3 separate regions of the Homo sapiens genome follow, and regions 1 and 2 are each linked to region 3. Evidence: fine-mapped expression QTL. A gene starts in region 3. Each other region holds a variant in brackets. All regions are shown on one strand. Distances are between the middles of the regions.

The links.
Region 1: its variant is fine-mapped to the expression of WSB1 in whole blood (INTERVAL, PIP 0.98).
Region 2: its variant is fine-mapped to the expression of WSB1 in whole blood (TOPMed, PIP above 0.99).

Annotation. Positions count from the first base shown.
Region 1 is chr17:27,457,005-27,461,235 of GRCh38, forward strand. All of the region lies in intron 1 of KSR1 (kinase suppressor of ras 1), which reads left to right. Among named protein-coding and RNA genes, the nearest start is that of KSR1, 2.7 kb to the left of the region's middle. RefSeq lists a silencer at 254-303 and an enhancer at 3,124-3,827. The variant C/G (reference allele first, on the strand shown) is at 1,913.
Region 2 is chr17:27,243,396-27,247,626 of GRCh38, forward strand. No RefSeq gene overlaps it. Among named protein-coding and RNA genes, the nearest start is that of MIR4522, 48 kb to the right of the region's middle. The variant A/C (reference allele first, on the strand shown) is at 2,040.
Region 3 is chr17:27,291,615-27,295,845 of GRCh38, forward strand. WSB1 (WD repeat and SOCS box containing 1) reads left to right here and starts at 2,500. Exons shown (of 9, transcript NM_015626.10): 1 at 2,500-2,821. The coding sequence starts at 2,782. It overlaps MIR4522 (microRNA 4522), which reads right to left and starts at 2,382; the gene lies at 2,296-2,382. RefSeq lists enhancers at 2,229-2,278, 2,649-2,708, 2,719-2,778 and a silencer at 2,319-2,528.

The DNA.
Region 1 (4,231 bases), 170 kb after region 3:
CACTCGCTGATGCGGCAGCCGGAGGACCCGGGACCAGCCCTCATCTTGGGCAGGATTTGTGGGGCGGGTGCGTCGTGGGAACTGGGATGGAGGCTCGAGGGGCCCGTGCGGGGTGGGCTGCGCGCGGACATCCCCTTTCCCCCCTTCTCCGCCCCCACCCCATTTCCAGTTTGCGGGGCCGCAGGACTCGTTGTCCCACCGAGTCACAAGCTGGACTTTTCCCCGTGTGACTGAGCCGAGCACCCGTGGGCCAGGGTGACGGAGGAGGTTCCCCTGAAGCGTGATCGCAGGCCTGCCGTCCCCTGTTCCCCTCACGCCCCAGACGCCGTCCTGTCCCTTCCTTTCCTCTCCTCTCAGGTCTTGTCTGCCGCCTTTTCAAAAAGTGTTGCTGAAACTGCATTTTTGTTATTCAGGCGTTTGGTGCTTTCCTTTCACGTTGCCACGGAGGCTCGCTGCTTAAAATGTATTAATAATTACCCGCTGACTCCCCCTGCTTCCCCCCAAAGATTGGATTTAGGCTTAGGAAGGATTATGCTGGGAAGCAAGCCTTTGGTGGGAAGATGAAACTGTTTAAAGGGTTCTGATGGAGACAGTCTGGAGTGTAAAGAAGAAATAAGATATGCGGGCCTTCCTCTCTCAAATTATAGCTGGGGAAGTATCTGAAGGATTTGGAAAAACCAGCCCGAGGGTTGTTGGGGCACCCTGTCCATACACAAATGAGGGCAACTAGTGGATTCTGAATGTGATTTTGGCCAGGGACGGGGCGGTGAAACGTCAGACCAGTTAATAGCTGCCCCGTCTTGAAGAAGGAACCTCTCACCATCTTGCCCTGCCACATCTGGCCTCCTGCAGGTCTGGGGATGTTTTGTTTTATTAGATCCTCAATTTCTCCTCCCCCAAACCCTCCCCCCGCCCCTTATTGCTAATTGCCTCTGCCAGCTGTCATAAGGCCCTCTGTGATCGCGGTAATTATTACAAGACCAATCCTTCCTCCAGGCATGCCACAAAGCCGAATCCTTGTTTGATTCCAAATGCTCGGGGGTGACTCTCCCTCAGTTTTATTTTCTTAAAAGCTATAAAACCACAGGACATTGGAAGAATACAGTCAGTGCTGGGTATTATTATTTTTTATTACAGTTGGCTAAAGCTGTACTGACCAAGGCTTTGCTTAAAAAACAAACAAAACCCCCTACAACTGGCCTTTCTGCATGCATGCTGCAGTTTTCCAAGTATTGAGAGAAACTGATTTTTTGAACACAGCTGAGTGTGTTTGCTCAGCAAAGTTCAGTTTTTAAGCTGACAACAATAGGGGGCCTGTGAGGCTCAGTTCCGGGAGGAGGGGTCGCTGTCTGGCAGAGTGTGCGTGGTTGGACTTCGGTGTTGCTGGGCTTGGAGAATGCTCTCTGTGTTGGCCTCTGTGGGATTGTCCCCACGTTGCTCTGAAGTGCTCCTGGCTTCCAGAGTGTGTATATAGGAGAACCACTTGCTGTGCATTCTCTGGAATGGCCTTTTGTCCTACCCTAACTTCCGGAGTCCCTCATTTTGATGGCAGTGTGGCGTTCATGACACCCCAGAGCATCCAGCTATTTAAGTGTTGGAGCTGGTTTATTCAGTGGCTTCCCTCCTGAGTGTTTGTTTAGACGATCATCCCTGGCAGCAGAGAACCCATCCAAAGGCCCACAGGGGATCTGCAGCTCCCTGTTCTTCCCACCGTGATGTGGATTCGGGTTCACTCCACTTCCTGAAAAGGCAGGGCCTGGGTTGTTTTGGGGGATGGGAATTTAGACCCCTGGAGTGAGTTCCATGGGGCTGCCACCAGCTAGTTTAGATGAGTCACTTCATCCCGGAGGCCTCAGCCTCCTCACCTGCAAAACAAGGAGGCTGGAGTGGATCTCTGAGGGCTCTGGAAGCT[C/G]GAAATTCTCTAGGTTAGAGAAGGAGACTTGGTTGGGTGAAATCAAATGTTTGTGATTGTTTTTATACTACCCTGGTTTAAGAATAACCCTCTTTAAGAATGGTTCTAAAATCCAGATTTACTGAACCCATAACATAGGGGTTAAGTTTATTAGAAGAATCTTTGCCATAGGAGCAGCGTGGTGAATAGGAAGCCCCATGGCTTTCATACTGGGCCTGGGTTCTGTCTGTGTGACCTTAGGCAAGTCCCATGACTTCTGAATCTCAAGCTCTCCTGTCTGTAAAATAGGAACGAGACTGCTCACACCTGCAGCATTTTGTCTGTCAGTCCGTGCTGATACTACGAAAAGAGTCTGCCTGGCAGCTGCCCCTAGTGAGGGTCCAGTAGCATTTATGGCACAGGCCACCACTAGGGAAACTTAACCCCTACTGGACCCTTGCTAGGGAAACTTAACCCCCTACTTTATGGGTTCAGTAAATCTGGATTTTAGGGAAAGGTACTTCTGCAGCTGCCTCTCATTTCATACAGGTGGGTGACACAAGCCAGGAAACAATCTCAGCAAGCTGGGTGGGACCGTCCACCGCCAGCAGCATGTGTTGGGGCCAGGCAGGCAAGTGGCAGTGTCCACTCCAGCGTTCTTTCCTGTTCTGTGGGCTCCCCACACACCAGGCCGTGGCCCCAGAGACTGTGCTTGCAACACTGGATTCCTGGCTTTTGAAGAAGGATCTGACCTGGAGGGCTTGGCCTGTGCAACTGCATCGGACTTATCTAGAATCTGAGGAGCCCCAGCTCACTCTGGCCTTCATTAAATAAACACTCAGTGGGAGAAGCAGCACGTGAAATGTCCGTGGAGGTCCCTGACCAGGGATGGGCTGCTGCTGCCTGAAATTGGGTTGTGATGGGGTGTAGTGGGTCAGCGTGTCTGGTTGTCCGGGGATAGCTTTTCTCTGTGTGGTGGTCCAGTTTGGATGGAAAAGGGTAGAAGGAGCTGAGACTTAACGTTTGCTGCCTGTGTGCCTAGCAGCGTGCCTGACTCTTCTCAAACTCACACACGTTCCTGGAGATCAGCAGTTTTCATCATACACATTTTCCCTCTCTAAATATAAAGGGAGGGAGGCACAATTTGAAACCAGGGTATTAATCTGTAAACAGAAGTTGTGAGGCTACTTCATCCTGGCAGGAGCTGGTGTTCTGTCTCCGCTAGACCCTCCTAGGGGTCTGAAAACTCCACCGAGGCAAACGGGAATGTTCTTATGCCCCAGTGTACTCACAGAGGGACACTTGGCCTGCCTAATAGCTGGGCCTGCAACCTATGCCAGTAATAATTACCTTCATTCCTTTGAATCTGCCCAGCGCTGGGGAGACAAGGGTGTGTAGAAGCAGACACATGTTGCCTCATGGAGATTTATGTTCCAGGGACATTGTGACTTGCCCTTTCCTGCCAGCCTACTAGTACTTTCCAGAGACAGGCTCTGCCATGCTGAGTCTCCCCACCTTGTGTTCTTGTGGAGAAAAATCCCTCCTAAGCAAGCTGGCGTGGAGAAAGGGGCTGAAGGACTTTGACCATCAGGCTTTGCTGGGGGAGGTGATGTTGGCAACTGTGGTAGGTGCAGAGTCAGGCTGTGCTGGGAGGCGATGTTGGGAACTGTGGTAGGTACAGTCTCTGCCCTTGGGCTGCTTTCCTGAGCAGTTGCCCTGGAGCCGCAGGGGGTCAGAGGGGAGGCCCTCCTGCCATCTGGAAGGTCAGAGAGGCCTGGCCCTCACACAGCTCTGCCGTGGCAGAGGTCAGAGTCCCACCGTGTGGGGGACCTGAGCTCTCCCTATGCCTCCCAGGAGCATCTGATGATGGAACTGCTGGGAGAGGGGAGGGGTGGCATTCCTGCAGATTGGGTCCTTAGGGTGTGTTGAGGCACGTTCCCTGGACAGACCTTTAGTTACTGTTGATGTGCTTACCTGGCTGGCAGCCACCTAGCAAGGGCTCTGAAGTAGGTGGGCTGTTCTCCCAGTCTTTGGGGTCTAGGGACAGTTCTAGTCTAGTGAAGGAGCCAGGCAGGGCACAGTAATGACTTTAGTAGCACAGCTTGCAGGACCCTGCATTGGGAACCCCACTGAACCCTTGGCCCATCCAACCTCCTGGTTTTTTTGTTTTGTTTTGTTTTTTGTTTTTGTTTTTGTTTTTCTTTTAGTCAGAGTCCCACTCTGTCGCCCAGGCTGGAGTACAGTGGCATGATCTCGGATCACTGCAATCTCAGCCTCCCAGGTTCAAGCAATTCTCCTGCCTTAGCTTCTGAGTAGCTGGGATTACAGGCATGCCCCACT
Region 2 (4,231 bases), 48 kb before region 3:
CACTCACTGTTGTCAGTTTCTTGGGTGGGTCTTACAGACATGTTCTACCCCTAAACGGGTATACACGTATGTCAAGGTGAGAGAGGGGTAAAGATGGGGGATACAAAATGTATTTAAGTCATGGACCCTGCACCTGAGAAACTCACAACTTCTTGGGAAGGTTAAGTCAGCCCTACTCCATGAGTTAGAGTATTAAATGGCATGTGGGAACCTGAATGAGGTCACTCACTCAAGGCCACTCACAGCCACTCAGAGCCAGGATTCAAGCCCCAAAGAGATTGAATGGGCTTGTTCTATAAACCACCCACCTGCCATAAGTAAAAGGGACACCTTTCATAAGTGGTATCAAGACAGAATTCCTAACCCCCAGTCCCCAGGTATAGTTCGAATGCACATTATTGTAATCCCTCTATTGCAAAGTCCTGGTTCTTGGACTTTTAAAGCTGGGACATAGCTGAGTCTGGGGCTGGAAACCAGGACTGGCAGGTGCAATAAAAGTAATAGTCCATCAAGCTTTGTTGCTTGAACTATGGTTACCATAAGTAATTACAGGAAAAATAAACAAAAACACTCCATGAAGCTGAAGTAGTAAAATGAGACTCCAGCTTCGAGAACAGACACGGTATTAAAATTGGGGCATCTTTGGGTCTGGCATCTCCACCCAGGCCATTTGACATGTGAGAAAATCTCGAGAGGTGAAGTGACTTGCCTGAGGTCACTGGGTTGATTTTGACAAAATGAAGATCAATATGCCTGTTTCCTATTCTGAGTTAGTCACTGTCCACAGCACCGCCTTCCCCACCACCAAGGGGAAGAGAGGCTGCAGGACAAGGTGAGCGCACCCATGTCCTTCCTGAGATGAGGCCTGTGCACTCTTGAAGTATTCTCTGACTTCAAGGGAGAACCAGTGGGAACGTCAGGCTTGGAAGACCAAGTCAGGGACTCAATTACGGCCTCACTGTCATTGTTTCTAGCTACAAACTATAAACACCGACTGCCTGAATGGAGAAGAAAATGTATCAGAAGGTAAACAGGCAGCTCACAGAACCACCACAAGACCCTAAAACTAGGTTTAAAGCTGCACAGTCAGGGACAACACCCCCCGACGGAACCCAAACCCTATGTGCCGAGAAACCTCGATGTGTCCCCAGCCGGCTCAGCGGCCCCTGCTGTGCCAGGAATTCAGATGTGCTGCACTGCCGACCATCCACAGTGGACATTCTCGGGAGTCCTGGCCTCCCTCAGAACCCCCACGCTCCCCTAAGGTCTGGCACAGGCCCCTCTGGTTGGCCAGCCCTCGTCACATGCGCTGGCTGTAGTTGCAAAAGGGAGGCTGAGAAAGGGGAAACGGAACATTTCCGTTTCTCTAGTAGAAGGTGAGGACCTCCTCCCGATCCAATCATAAAGTAGGAGTCCCCCAAACATGAGAAAGGAGTTCAAATGCCCAGTGGCTCCAAAAAGAAGATAAATGTCCTCCACCTGTTGGAAGTGGGGCATAAAGAAGATGGATGAGTCCTAGAGGAGGAAGGGAGAGGAGACCCTCCACAGAGCAGGGGCAGCTGAGTCTGTTAAGTGAAATTTGACTTAGTGGTGCAGGAACATGACGCATGAGGCATAACTCCACTATCCCAATAGCACAGGGCTAGGGTTGCCAGATGAAAGTCACATGCTTGGGGAATTGCAACACAGGAAGAGAAATTGAGCAATGAAGAGAAATTGAGAAATGAAGTCTCCGTACATTAAAGAGGAAGGGAAGGCTAATCTCTTCCTACCCTGGTTAAGAAAGAATTTGAATGGAGAAGAGGAGGAAAGGAGGCTGATTTGCATTAAGCACCTACTATTTTTGAGCACCAGGCCCTGAAATGTGGCTGGCGTGATCTCCTTTAATGTGGAGAAACAGAAACAGTACAATCTTGATAATTTGGGGATTTGGGAAAAGACTCCTTTCCCGTATGTTTCTTCCGTTAGTGTTACAGCCTCCTGGCCTCTCCCCTTCCTGCAAGCCCCTCCTGGAAAGAGGAGGTGATTGTGAGCTGCAG[A/C]GGGCAGTGTAAGCCTGGCTCTGCCTGCCTCCTGCTTTCCCTTGGGTGGGGCCTCCCATCGGCAGCTGGCGAGCACAGCTGTCATGCAGCCAGCCCTGCAGTGAGGCCCGCATGTCTGAGTCCTGCCTATGACCAGGCAGGTGGGTCTAATTCTGGGTATGACATTAGGATGTTGGTTGTTGCCTGGTTCATCTAAGCCACACCCTCAATCCGGGCCTTTATCAGCAATGAGGGTGATACTGCAATCCATACCTATCTTACTCCTTTATGTCTCAATAGTTTAGAACTCACACTGAGGAAAAGGGATGCTCCTTACCAATCCCCCTTCTCAAATCTCACCAGTAATTTCTGATAGGATTAGCACAGCATTTGACAAATATTAAAGGATTCAATTTTTAATCATCCTAGGAAGCAGGGCTCTTAACTTGAGATTTGGGGATGGACTTCAGAGCATGGGACATTCATTTATTCATTATTTTTCTTTTCTTTTCTTTTCTTTTTTGAGACAGGGTCTTGCTCTGTTGCCCAGTCTGGAGTGCAGCAATGCAATGACAGCTCACTGCAGTGTTGACCTCTTGGGCTAAATTGATCCTCCCACCTCAGCCTCCTGAGTAGCTGGGACCACAGACATGCCACCATACTCACCCCCTCTACCATAAAGTCTGAGGGAAAATTACTTTCTCTCCAAGACATTCTTGCAGCTGAAAATGTTACATAACATAGTTGGCCAATGAAGTATAAGCCAAAGAATTCTGGGAGCTTCTGGAAAAATTTTGCTTCCTTGATTGGAGCTGTGATTCTTTTTTTTTTTTTTTTTTTTTTTTTTTTGAGACAGAGTTTTGCTCTATTGCCCAGGCTGCAGCGTCAGCTCACTGCAACCTCTGCCTCCCAGGTTCAAGGTATTCTCCCACCTCAGCCTCCTGAGTAGCTGGGATTACAGGTGCCCACCACCATACCCAGCTAATTTTTTGTATTTTTAGTAGAGACAATCTTTCACCATGTTGGCCAGGCTGGTCTCAAACTGCTGACCTCAGGTGATCCACCCACCTCAGCCTCCCAAAGTGCTGGGACCAGCCACTGTGCCTGGCCAATGTCATTAATTTCTTATGTGTCCTTTCAGAGATACTTTATTTGGACACAAGCAATTACAAATACAGTTGACCCTCTGTATCCACAGCCTCTGTATCTGCAAGTTCTGTGTTCATGGATTCACTCAATTGCAGATCAAAACATATTGAAAAAAACAATAAAAATAGTAGTACAATAGTAAAAAATACAAATACAAATAAATAATACAAATAAAAATAAAAATAGTAAAAAATAATACAAATAAAAATATCATAAGTAATCTAGAAATGATTTAAAGTATACAGTAGGATGTGCAAATACTATGCCATTTTATATAAGGGACTTGAGCATCTTTAGATACTGGTATCTGCAGGGGTCCTGGAACTAATGCCCTGTGAATATGGAGGGATGATGACTGTATATGTATCTTTTGCCTCCTTTTAGACAAATAGTAGAATACTATACACACTGTTCTGCATCTTGCTTTTTTTCACTTAAAAACACATCTTGGTGACAATTCCATATCAGTACTTAAAGCATGCCAAACTCTTTTTAGCATCAGCATACTATTCCACTGTGTGACTGGAGCATAATTAATTTAACCAATTCCCTACCATGGGATGTATATGTTATTTGGAATCTTTTTTAAAGGATAGAATCCAGCTCAAGAACTTCTAGCCATGCAAGTGACTCAAAGCTTTAATGCAGAGTAACTTTAGGCAAGTTGCTTAACCTCTCTGAGGTTAAGTGTTTCTTATCTTCCTTCCCACCACAATGGCTCCCCAGAGCCCATCACTGCCCTGGGGAAGTGCTTTTATATTTCCAGCCCCACACAGTAGCATCCACCTTCATCTGGGGAGTGGGGGTCGAGGAGGCAGGAATAGGAGGTTTCAACCAGAGGACAGGTCCCCAGTGTCTTGGCCAAGGGAGCCTGGTGGGGGGCTCTCTCTGGCTGCTTCTCACGCCCTTATGTTGTCACCCTCTGAAATATGCTGTTTGCCTTCCCTGACGCTGACCTAGTTGGCAAGGACTGCAGAACAATGTCAGGCCCAGGGCCTGGTGCATCCTGGGGATGTCACCGCAGAGCAAACATGAGTTTGCTGGCTGGGTGTCAACAGGAAGAT
Region 3 (4,231 bases):
GGGTGGCTCACGCCTGTAATTCCAGCACTTTGGGAGGCCAAGGCGGGCAGATCACTTGAGGTCAGGAGTTTGAGACCAGCCTGGCCAACATGGTGAAATCCCGTCTCTACTAAAAATACAAAAATCAGCCAGCCATGGTGGCGTGTGCCTGTAATCCCAGCTACTCGGAAGGCTGAGGTAGGAGAATCACCTGAACCCAGGAGGCAAAGGTTGCAGTGAGCCGAGATCGTGCCACTGCACTCCAGCCTGGGCGACAGAGTGAGACTCCATCTCAGGGAGAAAAAAAAAAAGAAAAAGTCATCACAATAATTCACTGTTGGACACTCAAAAACTGGTATTTCCCATGAATTTGTATGGTATAGTACAAGTAACAGGGATAATAGCAGTTGGTTAAAAGAATTAACTCAGACTGATATGAATGTTGGTACATGAGCTACAAGACTGCATTAAAGTTTTTCTTTTGTTCTACTCTAAAAATTCAGCAACTAGGCCCAGTGCCTGATACAGAGTGAGTCCTCAAGATATCGTTGACTGAAGCTAACAAAGTGATTTATTGATTTATTTATTTATTGAGACAGAGTTTCACTCTTGTCACCCAGGCTAGAGTGCAGTGGTGCAACCTCAGCTCACTGCAACCTCTGCCTCCCGGTTTCAAGCAATTCTCCTGCCTTAGCCTCCAGAGTAGCTGGGACTTCGCCACTACGCCTGGCTAATTTTTTGTATTTTTAGTAGAGATGGGGGTTTCACCATGTTGGCCAGGCTGGTCTCGAACTCCTGACACCCGCCTCAGCCTCCCAAAGCGCTGAGATTACAGGCGTGAGCCACCGCCCCCAGCCTAACAAAGTGATTTTTTTTTAAAGACGAGGGGCAGGCAGGGCGCAGTAGCTTAACGCCTCTAATCCTAGCACTTTGAGAGGCCGAGGTGGGCAGATCACAAGGTCAGGAGTTCAAGACCAGCCTGGCCAATATCGTGAAACCCCCTCCCTACTAAAAGGATGAAAAAAATTAGCTGGGCGTGGTGGCAGCCACCTGTAGTCCCAGCTACTCGGGAGGCTGAGGCAGGAGAATCGCCTGAACCCGGGAGGCAGAGGTTGCAGTGAGCCGAGTTGGCGCCACTGCACTCTGCTCTGGGAGACAGAGCAAGACTCCGTCTCAAAAAAAAAAATAAATAAATAACCAAAAAAAAAAAAAAGGAGGGGCGATGTTTTATTAAACATTTCGCTATTTGAAGAATTAATACACTCATGCAAAGAAAAGATGAAGTAAACATGCCCTACAGTGTTATCATTTGAGATCTCTTAAAAGCGGCTATGCAGCCGGGCGTGGTGGCTCACGTTGTAATCCCAGCACTTTGGGAGGCTGAGGCGGGCGGATCACTCGAGGCCAGGAGTTCGAGACTAGCCTGGCCAACAGGGTGAAACGCCCTCTGTACTAAAAATACAAAAATTACCCGGGCTTGGTGTCACATGCCTGTACAAATCCCAGCTACTGGGGAGGCTGAGGCAGGAGAATTGCCTGAACCCGGGAAACGGAGGTTGCAGTGAGCCAAGATCACGCCATTGCACCCCAGCCTGGGAGAAGCGAGACTCCGTCTCAAAAAAAAAAAAAAAAAAAAAAAAAAAAGCGGCTATGCAACACTCTACTCTGTCCCATGAATATCTGCCACATATTTGAATTCCCAGTCTTATACGCCCCAGGCCTTTGCAATGTTTAGGGTCCACACGAGAAGCCATTAAAATGCAAATACGTCATCTGTGACCGGGAACCAAGCTGGCATCTAGCAGATACTGACACATTTATCAGTCTGATGTGTGGACAACTAGGTGCCTCCCAGAGGCCTTCAGGTAAGGTGGAGGAAGGGCCAATTCTGAGCTGACACAGTGGGATCCATCTTGGCCAGGACAGTGGGATCCATCTTGGCCAGGACAAAGGCAGTCCAGAGAGGCCCCGCGGCGCGGTGCGGCGCGATCACGCCCGAGTCTCCTTCTCGTTCCCCTCGGCCCTTCCTAAAACCTGCTGGCTCAGGTCTGAACAATCGCAGCTGGACAGGTGGTGCACAACGATGTTAATTTTCATCCTGTCTTTTTCATCAGTGCATCCTTCAGTTCCCTATTACTTGTGGGCTGGGGAGTTGGCCAAATTGAGTGAAAACCTGAAATGTCTTTTTGTTCTTTTGGTTCAGCCAGTTTAAGTTCCATGCAATCTTTAAGCTAGGAGGCTAATAATAATACAATTCTCTGCTTGCCCTTTTCAAAGCCACTTCAGCTTATAAACTCCATATTAGACCATCCAGGCCCAGAAGACGCCACCGGCCTACAGGCAGAGTCAGCGGAACCAGCCTGGGCTGGATCTCCCCCTGCGAGGCCCCCAGGCAACGCCCGCGCCGGGCCGGGGAGATCACGTCCCGTGCGTCGGGAGGCGGGGGCCTCGGGCTGTGACGTCACGTGGCCGCGCCCCTGCCGCCCAGATATCTCCGGCGCCGCCCGCCATTTTGACTCCAGTGTCTCGTTTGCAGTCGGCGCTTTAGGGGAACTGTCTTCCTCCGCAGGCGCGAGGCTGGGTACAGGGTCTATTGTCTGTGGTTGACTCCGTACTTTGGTCTGAGGCCTTCGGGAGCTTTCCCGAGGCAGTTAGCAGAAGCCGCAGCGGCCGCCCCCGCCCGTCTCCTCTGTCCCTGGGCCCGGGAGGGACCAACTTGGCGTCACGCCCCTCAGCGGTCGCCACTCTCTTCTCTGTTGTTGGGTCCGCATCGTATTCCCGGAATCAGACGGTGCCCCATAGATGGCCAGCTTTCCCCCGAGGGTCAACGAGAAAGAGATCGGTGAGGATTGGGACCGTGGGTGGGCGCATGAGGGCCGAGGAGAGGCAGGGACTCCCCGGAGGAGGTTTGGGAGGAAGCGACTCCAAGTCTGAGGGAAGAGCTCCAGTGCGCCAGGGCCAGCCCACTAGCGAGGAGGAGGAAGCCGCCTCGGTGGGAGTTGGCTGAGGGGTAAACGGCACCGACGTGGATGCAGCACCTACTGTGCTCCCTCGCGGTTGCTGTGTGGCTGGGGCGGGCAAGGACCCCGGTTTCTTCGTCGGAGGTCCGCGCAGGGCTCTTGTCCTGGGAGTTCTTGGCTCAGGGCATGACTGTCGAGTGGACAGGGAAGGGCCACTCAGGGACTTTAGGTTTACAATGGGGAAAAGTAAACTTGTGGGTTGTAAGCGGTAATGAAAGGAGGGGGTCCTCGTGTGTACCAACCACTCTTAGATAGAAATGAGATGGAAGAGGTCCCAACAGCCTGGCAAAAGCAATACAGTATTTTTAAAATGGTGTGGCCTTAAGAAACGCAGCGGTTCGGGGGAGGAGACTTTTAGAATTATCTTTCAAACACTTAAGGGAGGAGCTGGGTGGTTGGGTGGAGTGACAGAAGGAAAGCTTTTGTGCGGAAGAGGAAACTCTGGAAAAGGCTTTTCTGGCTTAGTGTCTAGCCCTGGTCGGCTTAGTAAAGGGCAATTAGTGTTGAAGGTTGTGCGTCCACACCTACTTAGTGGCTCAGTGGAAAGCACGTCGCATTATTTAAATCCTCTTTTAAAGTAAAATAACTGGAACAACGTTTGACGGTGTTGGGGGGTGCTGTACATTGGCTGATAACACTTAGCAAACACTGATCTTACTGTGTGAAGTAATAATTAGCTGCGGCCGCTGAGCAGAGAGCATTTACATTTTCCTACTCTTGAAGTGAATGTGTGCCTTTACTAAGTACAAGGAGGAGTTATTTCTAGAGAAGGGAAGAGGCTGAAGTAGCCAAAACGCGCACTATTTTGTATGTGGGTGAATTTTTATATCTAGAAACAGCTGTTTTAGAATTCTGGACTTTTGTTGTCTTAGGGATGATTGATTAGGAAGGGACTTTAACCCTGGTTTTAATAACCATTTTTAAAGATACAAACACAGAAAAAAAAGGGAAAAAATTGTAGCAGAGTTCACACAGAAAAAAGAAAAAAAAAGATGCAAAGAACACAGAATTTGTGTCCAGTTATTATTTTAACTGTATTTTAAGACTAGAAAGTATGTCGCGAAGTGGGACAAAGAACTCAAAAGTTCTTATCAGTCCAGTGGGTTTTTCTTTTACTTTAGTACACCATAATGTTATAGACGAGTGATCTGCCTTTTTTTTAAATCTGTATTTTACTTCATCCTGATAAACCATTTTGAAAACTTTGCGGTCCTGTTTTCTCTCTCTCTTTT